2 separate regions of the Homo sapiens genome follow, and region 1 is linked to region 2. The links come from fine-mapping of genetic effects on gene expression. Tissue or cell type: whole blood. Region 2 holds a variant in brackets; the other region holds the start of a gene. All regions are shown on one strand. Distances are from middle to middle.

Region 1 (5,376 bases), 46 kb before region 2:
ACGCCTGTAATCCCAGCATCTTGGGAGGCTGAGGCGAGCAGATCACTTGGGGTCAGGAGTGCGAGACCAGCCTAGCCAACATGGTGAAACCCCGTTTCTATTAAAAATACAAAAATTAGCTGGGTGTGGTGGCACATGCCTGTAATCCCAGCTACTCAGGAGGCTGAGGTAGGAGAACTGCATGAACCCAGGAGGCAGAGGTTGCCGTGAGCCGAGATCACACCACTGCACTCCAGCCTGGGCAACAGAGCAAGACTCCGTCTCAAAAAAAACCCAAAAACTATATACTCAATGATCTTGCCAAAGTTTATACACATGTACATATATAACACACACGAAATATGTATATATAAAATATGTATATAAACATATGAATATTATAGGTACATGTACATATGTGTACAACACACACACATATACATACATATATACATACATGCCCATATATGTTTTAAATGACTCCTATTGAAGTTGGACAGAAAACCCAAATGGCTTCAGTTTCCACAGGAGAAGCTGAAGGTGACATGACCCTCTGAAACATTCTGGTACCGTCTTTGCAGGGAGCGGTGGGAGGGGGTAAGAAACGCTCCAGGAGCCTTACAGGAAATGGCACGTTATTGCTTTTCAACAACAAAGCCACTGTCCTCCTTCTATGCTGCATGCTTGCAAATCAGACTCAAGGGAACTAAAAAATTCCAGAAGAATCATTCCTAGCACCACCCAGGCTCGTTTTGCAGGTTAGCTTTAAACAGCTGAAACATTAGTTTGCCTCACTCTAAAGAGTGTTTCCTTACTCTTTATCGGCTTCAAGGGCCCAGGGAGTGTCGGAGAGGGGTCCCGGGTCTGCAAGAGCTGGGAGCCCCGGCCCCGGCAACCCCCTCTCCGGCATCCTGCAGGAGGCACCCAAGATGATGAGCCCCCCTCCTCCGGCAGCGTCTCCACCGCCAGCCTGCCCCAGGACTCCGAGACACACGCTTGGCAGAGGGGCCGTCCCTTCCAGCTAAGCCTTTCCGGACCCAGTCAAAGTCACGACTCCTGCCAATCCCTCTGAGATAAACATAACAGATGGGCCCAAACGCGGTGGGTCCACAGCAGAGGGTCAGCGATGCCCAGGGTAGAATAGGCTCTGCCTCTAGCATTCAAGTGGTTTAGGTCTGTGGCTGGTAAAATGGAGATGATTCCGGTTTGGTCTGACAGATGGGATTATTCTAAGGTCCGGAAATCACTTTATAGACTGTCAAGCACTGTTAGAAATGAACACTGGGGTAAGCTTTTGTTTGGGGAGGGGAGGGTGCAGCGATCCTGAGATACCAAGGCTTGGGGGACTATTGGAGGACCTGGGGGATTCGGGGGGATTATTACAGAGGGTGTGCGAACACAGGTGCACGTGGAAGAAAGCCCAAGGTGGGAGAGAGAAAAGGGGGAGACAGAGGTGTGGGGCTGCCAGGGCAGAGGGCAGGTGCCAGGGGGAAGGTCCCTGAGAAGAGAGACACAGGTTGCTGGGGGAGTGGGCACGAGAGTAGCGAGCAGATACCTGGATATGAGGAAAGGCAGTGGGGGACGGGACTAGGTCCAGGTGTGAGTTGCGAGGCCATGAGTTAGGAGTCACAGGCTCAGGTGTGGGTGTGGGGGTGTCATCGACAAGGACAGACTCAGGTGATGTGGGGGGTGTTCGTGAGTGGGGGCGGGTGTTCGTGAGTGGGGGCGCGGTGTCAGGTGTGTGAGGGGGATGTCAGACCCAGCTGTGCGGGGCGCCGGGGACAAGGCCCCAGGGGTGTGGGAGATGTCAGCAAGGACAGTCTAAAGTGTATGGGGGATGTCAACGAAAAGGGACGTGGTGTCAGGCGTGCGTGGACTGCGGGTGACGGGCTCAAACCTGGATGCAGTAGCCCCCAGGGGGCAGTAGACGTGGAGTGTGGGGTTGGGGGGGGTCTTTAACCTCTTCCTGCCCTCGCGACGCTACTGTCATGCCCCGCCTCATCCGCCCCTCGCCCCGGGATCCATGACAGGACCCGTGCCTCACCTCAGTTCAGCCCGACAGGCGCGGGCCGCTGACGCTTGGGCCCCCCCGGCGCCCCCCGCGCCCCCTCACCGGCCCGGACGCGTCGCCGCCGCCGCTACCTCCAGCCGCCACGGCCCCGCCTCGCGCACCCCCAGAGCGCGCCACGGGAGGGGTCCACGCCACGCCCCGATTGGCTGCTCCCTGGCCAGTCAGCGCTGGAAGCGACAGTGATTGGCGAGTATGAAGCAGATGGGCAGCCCCTAAAGCCAATCGCTGATTGGCAGAGGTGGGGCTATTGGGAGAGGCCTGGGGTGCCTGAGTGGTCCCTCAGGGTGCTAGGCGCTGGGAGGCGAGGGCCTGGAGGCAGGCGAGGATTGGAATCTTGGCAGAAAACAGGCAGAACTGTCGGCCAATCGCTGGGGGCCAGGGGCGGGGCTACGAAGAAACTGGCGCTACCGGTGGGGCAGAGGCGAGAGGAACGGAGGGCGTAGCTTGGGGGGAGACCGGGATTGGCCGCAAAGCCGAAGACTGGCAGGCCCCGCGGCCAGTCGCAGCGGCCGTGGGCGGTACGCCCCCAGGGGAGGGCTGGAGCGTTCAAGGTGCAGTCCGACCCGGAGCGCGGCAACCCGACGTGGCCTCGGACGCCTGGCGCAGGGTCCCCTGAGGCTCTCGTGTAGAGCCCGCCCTCTGGCCACCTAGCACAGAAGCGGATGTGAACTTGGACCATCAAGGCTGAAGGACTCCTGGATAATTCTCTATCCCCTTACTCCCCACTAATCCCCTGCAGACGACACGGAGAGGGCAGATTCGCTGGAGGTCACTCTGAACTGCCCTCTCCATCTCGAGGTGGTGTGAAGACATGGAAATAAGGGGCGGAATCCTACTGAAACGCGCTGCGTGGTTTTCTGAGTGTCTGACCTCTCTGCGTCCCAGCTTTCCCCGCCACGGTATCCAGTGACATCCCTGTTGGGCCTTCTCCCTGCCAAGTCTTTTTTTGAATTAACTGAATCTTAACCACAATCCCATGAGGTCAGAGAGACCACTGGCTCCTTTTACAGAAACCAGAGCACAGAGAGGTCAAGCTCCTTGCCCAAGGTTACACAGCATTCTCTGGTTGCTAAACCAGAGAATGAATCTAGAGCAGCCTGCTTTTTGGAAAGAGTGTGTCAGAGAAGAGCCACTGGGGGCCTCAGAGACCTGGGTTTGAATCCTTGTCCAATCACTGGCCCACCACACAACCTTGGGCAAAAGCCCTTGTGAGCCTCAGCTGTTTCATTTGGAAAAGAGGGGGGAAAATGATTCCTATGCCTTGATCTTTCCTCTCTGGGGTTGCTTCCCTGGGAAAATTTACAACTCAGCTCTCATTTTAATTATCTGGTGAAAGCATTTGACCCTGAGCAGGTCATGTGCGGCCTGTGAGCCTCAGCTCCTCTGTGAAGTGCAGAAAAATGCCGGCAGTTTAGGGAGACACCTGCCATCCCAGGCATGGCTGTGTCATCGGCACCTCCCCCGAAGCCACTCTGTTCTATGACTCACCCTTCATCTTCAGGATGGAGAGGGCTACAAATGTTTCCAGATACCAGCTCTTATTTCCTCTAGGTGCTGGCCAGGGTTGGTGGAGATCAAGTTCAGAACCAGGGAATCCTGGGAGGGAGCAAGGCTGAAACCAACCTTAGAAAGGGCTCACATTTCAGGGCTGCACAAGCCCCTGCTAAGTGTGTGATCCACAAGTTTCAAATGGGGAGGATGTGACGGGAAATCACTAGCCCAAGGCCATCATCAAACTCCTGATATTCTCACGATATGCCTACCTGGACCTCCTCTCCCATACCTCCCACCTGTGGTTTGCTTCCTGGCAACTTCCAGGATCTGGCCTCCATTCTGCCCTCCAGAGAAGAGGGGGAAGCTGAGGTCAGTTGAACATCAATTGGGTGCCAGGTCCCCACTGGGCTTTCTCCAATACCATCTCCCCACCTCACTTCCAGGTGGACGTGACAGTGCCCACTTAGCAGATAAGAAAACTGAGCCTATGGTGGAGAATATTCCTTGGTGGAAGGACCCAGGGCTGAGTTTGAATCCCTGCTCTTTTTAACGTAAGTAATGGCCAGTAACAGCCACAGGACCTTCAGCAAATAACACAAGCTCCCCACTTCAGTTTCCCGGCTGTCTCCTAGGGCTGATGTGAGCATTGATGAAATGGAAGCAAAACACTTACAATGGCTTCGTCCACAGTAAGCACTCATGGAAGGCTGGTGATGATATATTGTTCTTCTCTGGGCCTGTTTCCCTCTCTGTAAATAGCGCTTCATGGACACAGACCAACTATGGGCGTGGCTTGCCACACCAAGAGGGAGATATCTACGCCGAGGAGCGCCCACTCCCAGTGCCCACCTGCCAGGCCCTGGGAGGGGGAGGTAACAAAGCTCCTGGAAGGTCCCACAGTGCCTCCAGGGACAGAGCCAACTAAGGCAAAGGTCAGGCTCTGGCCCAGCCTGGGGCTGCCTCTCTAGCTTCTGCTCGTTCTTTAGCAGGCTGGCGCCAGCCAACCTCCCTACCGCCTTCCAGCAATGGCAGGCAAAGCACCTTGGCAATAGCAATGGACACCCCCACCATGGGCACTCATGTAAGCCCAGCTAGGGTGCCCAGGATCTCGGCTCTTCTGCTTTGGCTGGCCAGCCCTGGACAGGACACTGCCTCTTCGCCCTCCAGTCTCCTCTACCTCTTGGGGATCCCAGGAATCATCTGTGAGCCAGGCCCTGGCACAGCGTCCAGGCCTAATCACCTGAGGCCCAAAGGCCTTTTGCCCAAGGTCAGGTTAACAGCTTTGGAAAAAGATGAGGGGCCTGGAGGCAGGCCAAGCTGTGGTCTCATCCCACCGCAGCCCCTCAAATGCCCATGAGTCTATTTCCTATCTGGAAAATGAGGTTTAGTCCAGCCTCTGGGAGATGTATGTTCACAACAGAAAAAATCTGTGTTCCTTTCCCAGGAGCCCAAGCCCATCCCTGGCTGGAGGGAGACATCCTGAACACAGCAGTGACAACAACCAAGCCTGGCTGGGGTCAGAGTGGCCTCATTCACCTCCCAAGGCTCAGATAAGTCAGGCCACTTCACCAAGAGCCTACAGTAGCAGAGGCGTGGCCTGAACACACTCGCACCATCCTTGCAGCAGGCTCCACCTCAGCCCAGGTCTCGATGTCATCAAGGAGGACAGCAAAAGCTACTTAAGAGAAGGCCAGGGCCGGGTGCGGTGGCTCACGCCTGTAATCCTAGCACTTTGGGAGGCCGAGGCGGGCGGATCACGAGGTCAGGAGATCAAGACCATCCTGGCTAACAAGGTGAAACCCCATCTCTACTAAAAATACAAAAAAATTAGC
Region 2 (5,376 bases):
ATCTCCTGACCTCGTGATCCGCCTGCCTTGGCCTTCCAAAGTGCTGGGATTACAGGCGTGAGCCACTGTGCCTGGCCAAAATTTGTTTCTTATACATTCAGCAGATATTTTCTGTGAACATGTAATTTGGGATCACTGACCTTTTTATTTATTTATTTATTTATTTTTTTTTGTGATGGAGTCTCGCTCTATCCCACCATGCCTGGCTAATTTTTTTTTTTTTTTTTTTTTTTGTATTTTAGCAGAGACGGAGTTTCACCATGTTGCCCAGTGTGGTCTTGAACTCCTGAGCTCAGGCAATCCACCCCGCTCAGCCTCCCAAAGTGCTAGGATTACAGGTGTGAGCCACCGTGCCCGGCTGACCTTTTTTTTTTTTCTTTTTTTTTTTTAATTGGAGAAAATTTTTTGTGAATTGATACATATATTTTCTGATTACAAAACACAAGTTTTTTTTTTAAGTTCTTAAAGCATAAGGAAAATGAAATTCCTGATAATTCTACCCCCTATAACCTCTGTTAACATATTTCCTAACATATTTCCTTATAGTCTTCTTTCTATGTATCCATATTTATATTTTTTATTCCCACCTTTATATTGAGAACCATAACCTAGATACATTTTTGTATATTTTATACTAGATATTTATATTTTCCACTTTAATGTTATGAACACTCAAATTATTAAGTAATATGTGAAAAATGATATCAAATTGCTATATATCTTTCTTTTTCTAGAGCATATACATAAATTGCTCTGTCCAGTCATTGAAAGCTGTGACTGTTTCTCTCCTAGTGGTTATACTGTTACATTTTTTAGGAGGAGATTTTCCATATTGGTTGTTTTCCTCTTTTCAATGCTGGTGTCTTGTGAATGAGGATTTCGGTTGTTGATGCCTGCTTGGGTTCAGCACTAAGCCCCCAACTACTCAACTATCCTCGTCTTCTCAGAGCCCACATTCAGCATATTTCTCAGAGAAGCTGTTCTGTGTGTTCCAGCTGTCCCCCAGCGAGCAGATCACAGGGTAGTGGGCACCATCGACCAGCTTGTGAAACGTGTCATCGAAGGCAGCCTGTCTCCCAAAGAGAGAACTCTTCTCAAAGAGGACCCTGCTTACTGGTAGGTCTTTAAATGTCCACGCTGTGAATCCCTCTCATGGAGTATATGGCAAAATTTGGGTCACTCTGATGGTATTGAGAGCAGAGGGTGAGATACTTGAGCAAGTGGTGTTCTCCAGTGAGAAGAGCATGAGGGTGGCTCAGATTTATGTGGGTTCAGCAAGCCCCAGCTCTGCTGCAGACCAGTGGTAGGCCAGCTGGGTGGGTGGCCTTCTCTCACCTGTGACTACAGCTCCAAGTCCCTGCTGGGCTGTTTTAAGGATGCAGTGAGATGTGCATGCAGAGAATACAGAGTAAGGGTAGTAAGATTAGTAATACATCATTGCAGTTGTTTGCAATTTATTGCTAATATTTGTTAAACTGTCTTTTGCTTAATTGCCTCTTTATGTAAATAGAACAACTTTTTTTTTTTTTTTTTTTTTTGAGACGGAGCCTTGCTCTGTCGCCCAGGCTGGAGTGCAGTGGCGCTATCTCGGCTCACCGCAACCTCCGCCTCCCGGGTTCATGCCTTTGTCCTGCCTCAGCCTCCCGAGTAGCTGGGACTACAGGAGCCCACCACCACGCCTGGCTAATTTTTTGTGTTTTTAGTAGAGATGGGGTTTCATAGTGTTAGCCAGGATGGTCTCGATCTCCTGACCTCATGATCCACCTGCCTCAGCCTCCCAAAGTGCTGGGATTACAGGCGTGAGCCACCGCGCCCGGCCGAACAACTTATTAAAATTACAGTTTGCGTCCTAAATATAGTACTTTCTTATTAGAGAAAGTAAAGAACAAGCCAGAGAAAGAGTCTTGCTCTGTCACCCAGGCTGGAGTACAGTGGCGCAATCTTGGCTTACTGCAACCTCCGTCTCCTGAGTTCAAG[C/T]GATTCTCGTGCCTCAGCCTCCCAAGTAGCTGGGATTACAGGTGCACGACATGAGGCAGGTCACCTCAGCAAAGAGGCAATGGCCAGTTCTGTCCACAGGGCTCCAGTGGCAACAAATAATGCTTGTGGGGTGTGAGGGTGGAAGGTCTCAAATCTGTGTATTTTTAGTAGAGATGGGGTTTCACCATGTTGGCCAGGTTGGTCTCGAACTCCTGACCTCAGGTGACCCACCTGCCTTGGCCTCCCAAAGTGCTGGGATTACAGGCGTAAGCCACTGTGCTGGGCTGAGACACCATTTCTCTTAAAAAAAAAAAAAAAAAGTGATGATCAGTGCTTTGATTGTATTTCTGCCTACCTTTCTGGCAGTTTATTATGATATCTGGGCGTGAAACTGCTGGGTTAAAGCTCATGTTAGAGGCTTTTGATTTATGTCAGTTTCTCAGCTGCAGCACTTTTTATTTTTATTATTATTATTTGTTAACGGAATCTTGCTCTGTCGCCAGGCTGGAGTATAGTGGTGTGATCTCGGCTCACTACAACCTCTGTTTCCCAGGTTCAAGCAATTCTTGTGCCTCAGCCTCCCAAGTAACTGGGATTACAGGTGCCCGCCACCACACCCAGCTAATTTTTTGTATTTTAGTAGAGACGGGGTTTTACCATGTTGCCCAGGGTGGTCTTGAACTCCTGAAATCATGCGATCCGCCTGCCTTGGCCTCCCAAAGTGCTGGGATTACAGGCGTGAGCCACCGCGCCCAGCCTCAGCTGCAGCACTGAGGCTGGATCATTCTGTATTAGGGTTGGAGCTGTCCTGGACATTGCAGGCTGTTTAGCAGCATCTGTGGCCTCTATCCGTTTGATGTTAGTAGGACCTTCTGTCTCACTAGTAACAACCCAGAATACATCCAGACACTGCCTGGTGTCCCATGGCAGGCAGAGCTGCCCCTGATGGAGACCATTGATGTTTATCATTAGATTACTCTCCATAGGTTATCTGTACTAATTGACTTTCTCACTGCTACTCTGTAGGTGTGCTGTGCCCTCTTTTGTTTTCTGTTTTTTGTTAGTGACAGGATCTCACTCTGTTGCCCAGGCTGCAATGCAGGGGTGCTATCACAGCCCACTGCAGCCTTGACCTCCTGAGTGTGCCCTTTTTGGTAGTCAGATTGTACCCATACTGGACTTGCTATGCTTGCTGTTGTAATTACTAAAGATGCTTGAAAGGCATACATTTCCATGTCTTTGGTCCTACCCACCATGATTTACCAAGGGGAAGGTTGGAGCTTATTGTGGTTTTATTTTTACAAAATTCTTGAGTTTGGATTATTTTCATGTATTGAATGAGGTAGGCATGTAACTTAAAAGTTAAAAATTCCCAAATAACCTAATTGTCCCAGCATCATTTATTGAATACTTTTTATTTAATAAACACTTGTGCCTTCTGTGCAGTTGGTACTGTTCTAAGCACATTACTGATTTAAGCACTAGCTGGTTGAATCCTCATAAACAACGTTGGGAGGCAGGTCTCTTGCTATGCTTATTTTACAGACAAGAAACTTTGAGGCTCCAAGAGCCCTCTTGCCTTGAGGATCCACAACTAGTAAGAGGCAGAGTTGAGATTCAAATCCAGGGTCTGTGGTCTGAACCAGTGTGCATGTTGAAGGATTGTCAGATTGACAGATGCAAGCAGATACCGACCCTCTTGGTAAGAAGGCATCCAGACTTAGAAGGCCCAGGGGCACTTTACAGGTGGTTGATAAGGTGATTAGGCTGGAGGAATAGGAGGCCCTGAGAGGCCTGGGGGCTGGTGCCTCTGCCCCATGACCCCTGCACATGGCCCAGTGGTCTCATGACCACTGATAACCAGGGGCAGCAGACGGAAGCCAGAGTCAGGGGTATGTTTGGATAGGGGGCAGGGCAGGGTACAAAATCAGAAATAAGCGGCCGGGCATGGTGGCTCACACCTATAAGGTGGGTGGATCACGAGATCAGGAGATCGAGACCATCCTGGCGAACACGGTGAAACCCTGTCTCTACTAAAAATACAAAAAAAAATTAGCCGGGCCTGGTGGCGGGTGCCTGTAGTCCCAGAAATAAGCATCAAACTAAGAACTGATATTTGAGGTAAACCAGTATCATGAAAGAGCATCACCAAACTCAACCAACTCCTGACACCCTAGAAGACAGAGTCACTATGAGAAAGAGGAGGTGTAGTCTATAAATATGTATGTGCAATGAATAGTCTCAGGTAATAAGAGTATATTGTATCCATGAAACAGACACTGGTTGCTATGAAAACGATTCTATTAAGGATCTTGGAAATGAAAAATAGATTGAAATAAAAATCTCAGCGGTTGGCTGATAGAATAGATCCTGAAGAAGGAAAGATTTAGGAGTTGGTCCCAGAGACTTTATCATCCAAAAACTCCTTCACAAGGAATTACCTGGCTGGGTGCAGTGGCTCACGCCTGTAATCCCAACACTTTGGGAGACCGAGGGGGACAGATGACTTGAGGTTGGGAGTTCGAGACCAGCCTGGCCAACATAGTGAAACCGTGTCTCTAATAAAAATACAAAAAATTAGCTGGGCATGGTGACAGGCGCCTGTAATCCCAGCTACTTGGGAGACCGAGGCACAAGAATCACTTGAACCCGGGAGGCAGAGGTTGCAGTGAGCCAAGATCGCACCACTGCACTCCAGCCTGGGTACAACGGAGCATGACTCTGTCTCAAAAAAAAGAGAAGGAATTACCAAGAGACTGTAAGAGGAAAGAGTGTGATACAAAAGCACAGCAATAAGTAAAGAAACTGCTAAACTTAGGTTTCTGGTGTGCATGTTTGAATTCTTAAGTCAAAATGCTCCTTGTATGTTGTATTTAACAAAACAGTCAATTGAACGCATAATGAAAAGCCAAATGTTTCTGCTGTGACCTGTTTCCATGTTCCACTCCTTGAAGGCAGTCACTTAGTTCTTCAAACTACTTCTCACGGCTACCTCTGTATCTCTTTTTATTATTTATTTATTTATTTATTTATTTATTTATTTTTTGAGACAGAGTCTCGCTCTGTCCCCCAGGCTGGAGTGCAGTGGCGGGATCTTGGCTCGCTGCAAGCTCTGCCTCCCGGGTTCACACCATTCTCCTGCCTCAGCCTCCCTAGTAGCTGGGACTACAGGCACCTGCCACCACACCCGGCTAATTTTTTTGTATTTTTAGTAGAGACGGGATTTCACCATGTTAGCCAGGATGGTCTCAATCTCCTGACCTCATGATCCTCCTGCCTTGGCCTCCCAAAGCGCTGGAATTACAGGCATGAGCCACCGCACCTGGCTTACCTCTGTATCTCTTAATAAGCCTATGTTGCTTTTTCTTGACTGAACAGTTTTATGCATGACCATTGACA

Evidence for each region. PIP is the estimated chance that this variant, and not a neighbour inherited with it, causes the effect.
Region 1: SLC25A42 starts here. The variant in region 2 is fine-mapped to the expression of SLC25A42 in whole blood (TOPMed, PIP 0.96).

What each region holds. Positions count from the first base shown.
Region 1 is chr19:19,060,763-19,066,138 of GRCh38, reverse strand. It overlaps SLC25A42 (solute carrier family 25 member 42), which reads right to left and starts at 2,145. Exons shown (of 8, transcript NM_178526.5): 1 at 2,024-2,145. It overlaps LOC124904655 (a long non-coding RNA gene), which reads left to right and starts at 2,614. Exons shown (of 3, transcript XR_007067160.1): 1 at 2,614-2,949; 2 at 3,988-4,095; 3 at 4,989-5,313. RefSeq lists silencers at 1,974-2,243, 2,504-2,673.
Region 2 is chr19:19,014,849-19,020,224 of GRCh38, reverse strand. It overlaps SUGP2 (SURP and G-patch domain containing 2), which reads left to right. Exons shown (of 11, transcript NM_001017392.5): 4 at 996-1,116. Among named protein-coding and RNA genes, the nearest start is that of SUGP2, 16 kb to the left of the region's middle. The variant C/T (reference allele first, on the strand shown) is at 1,978.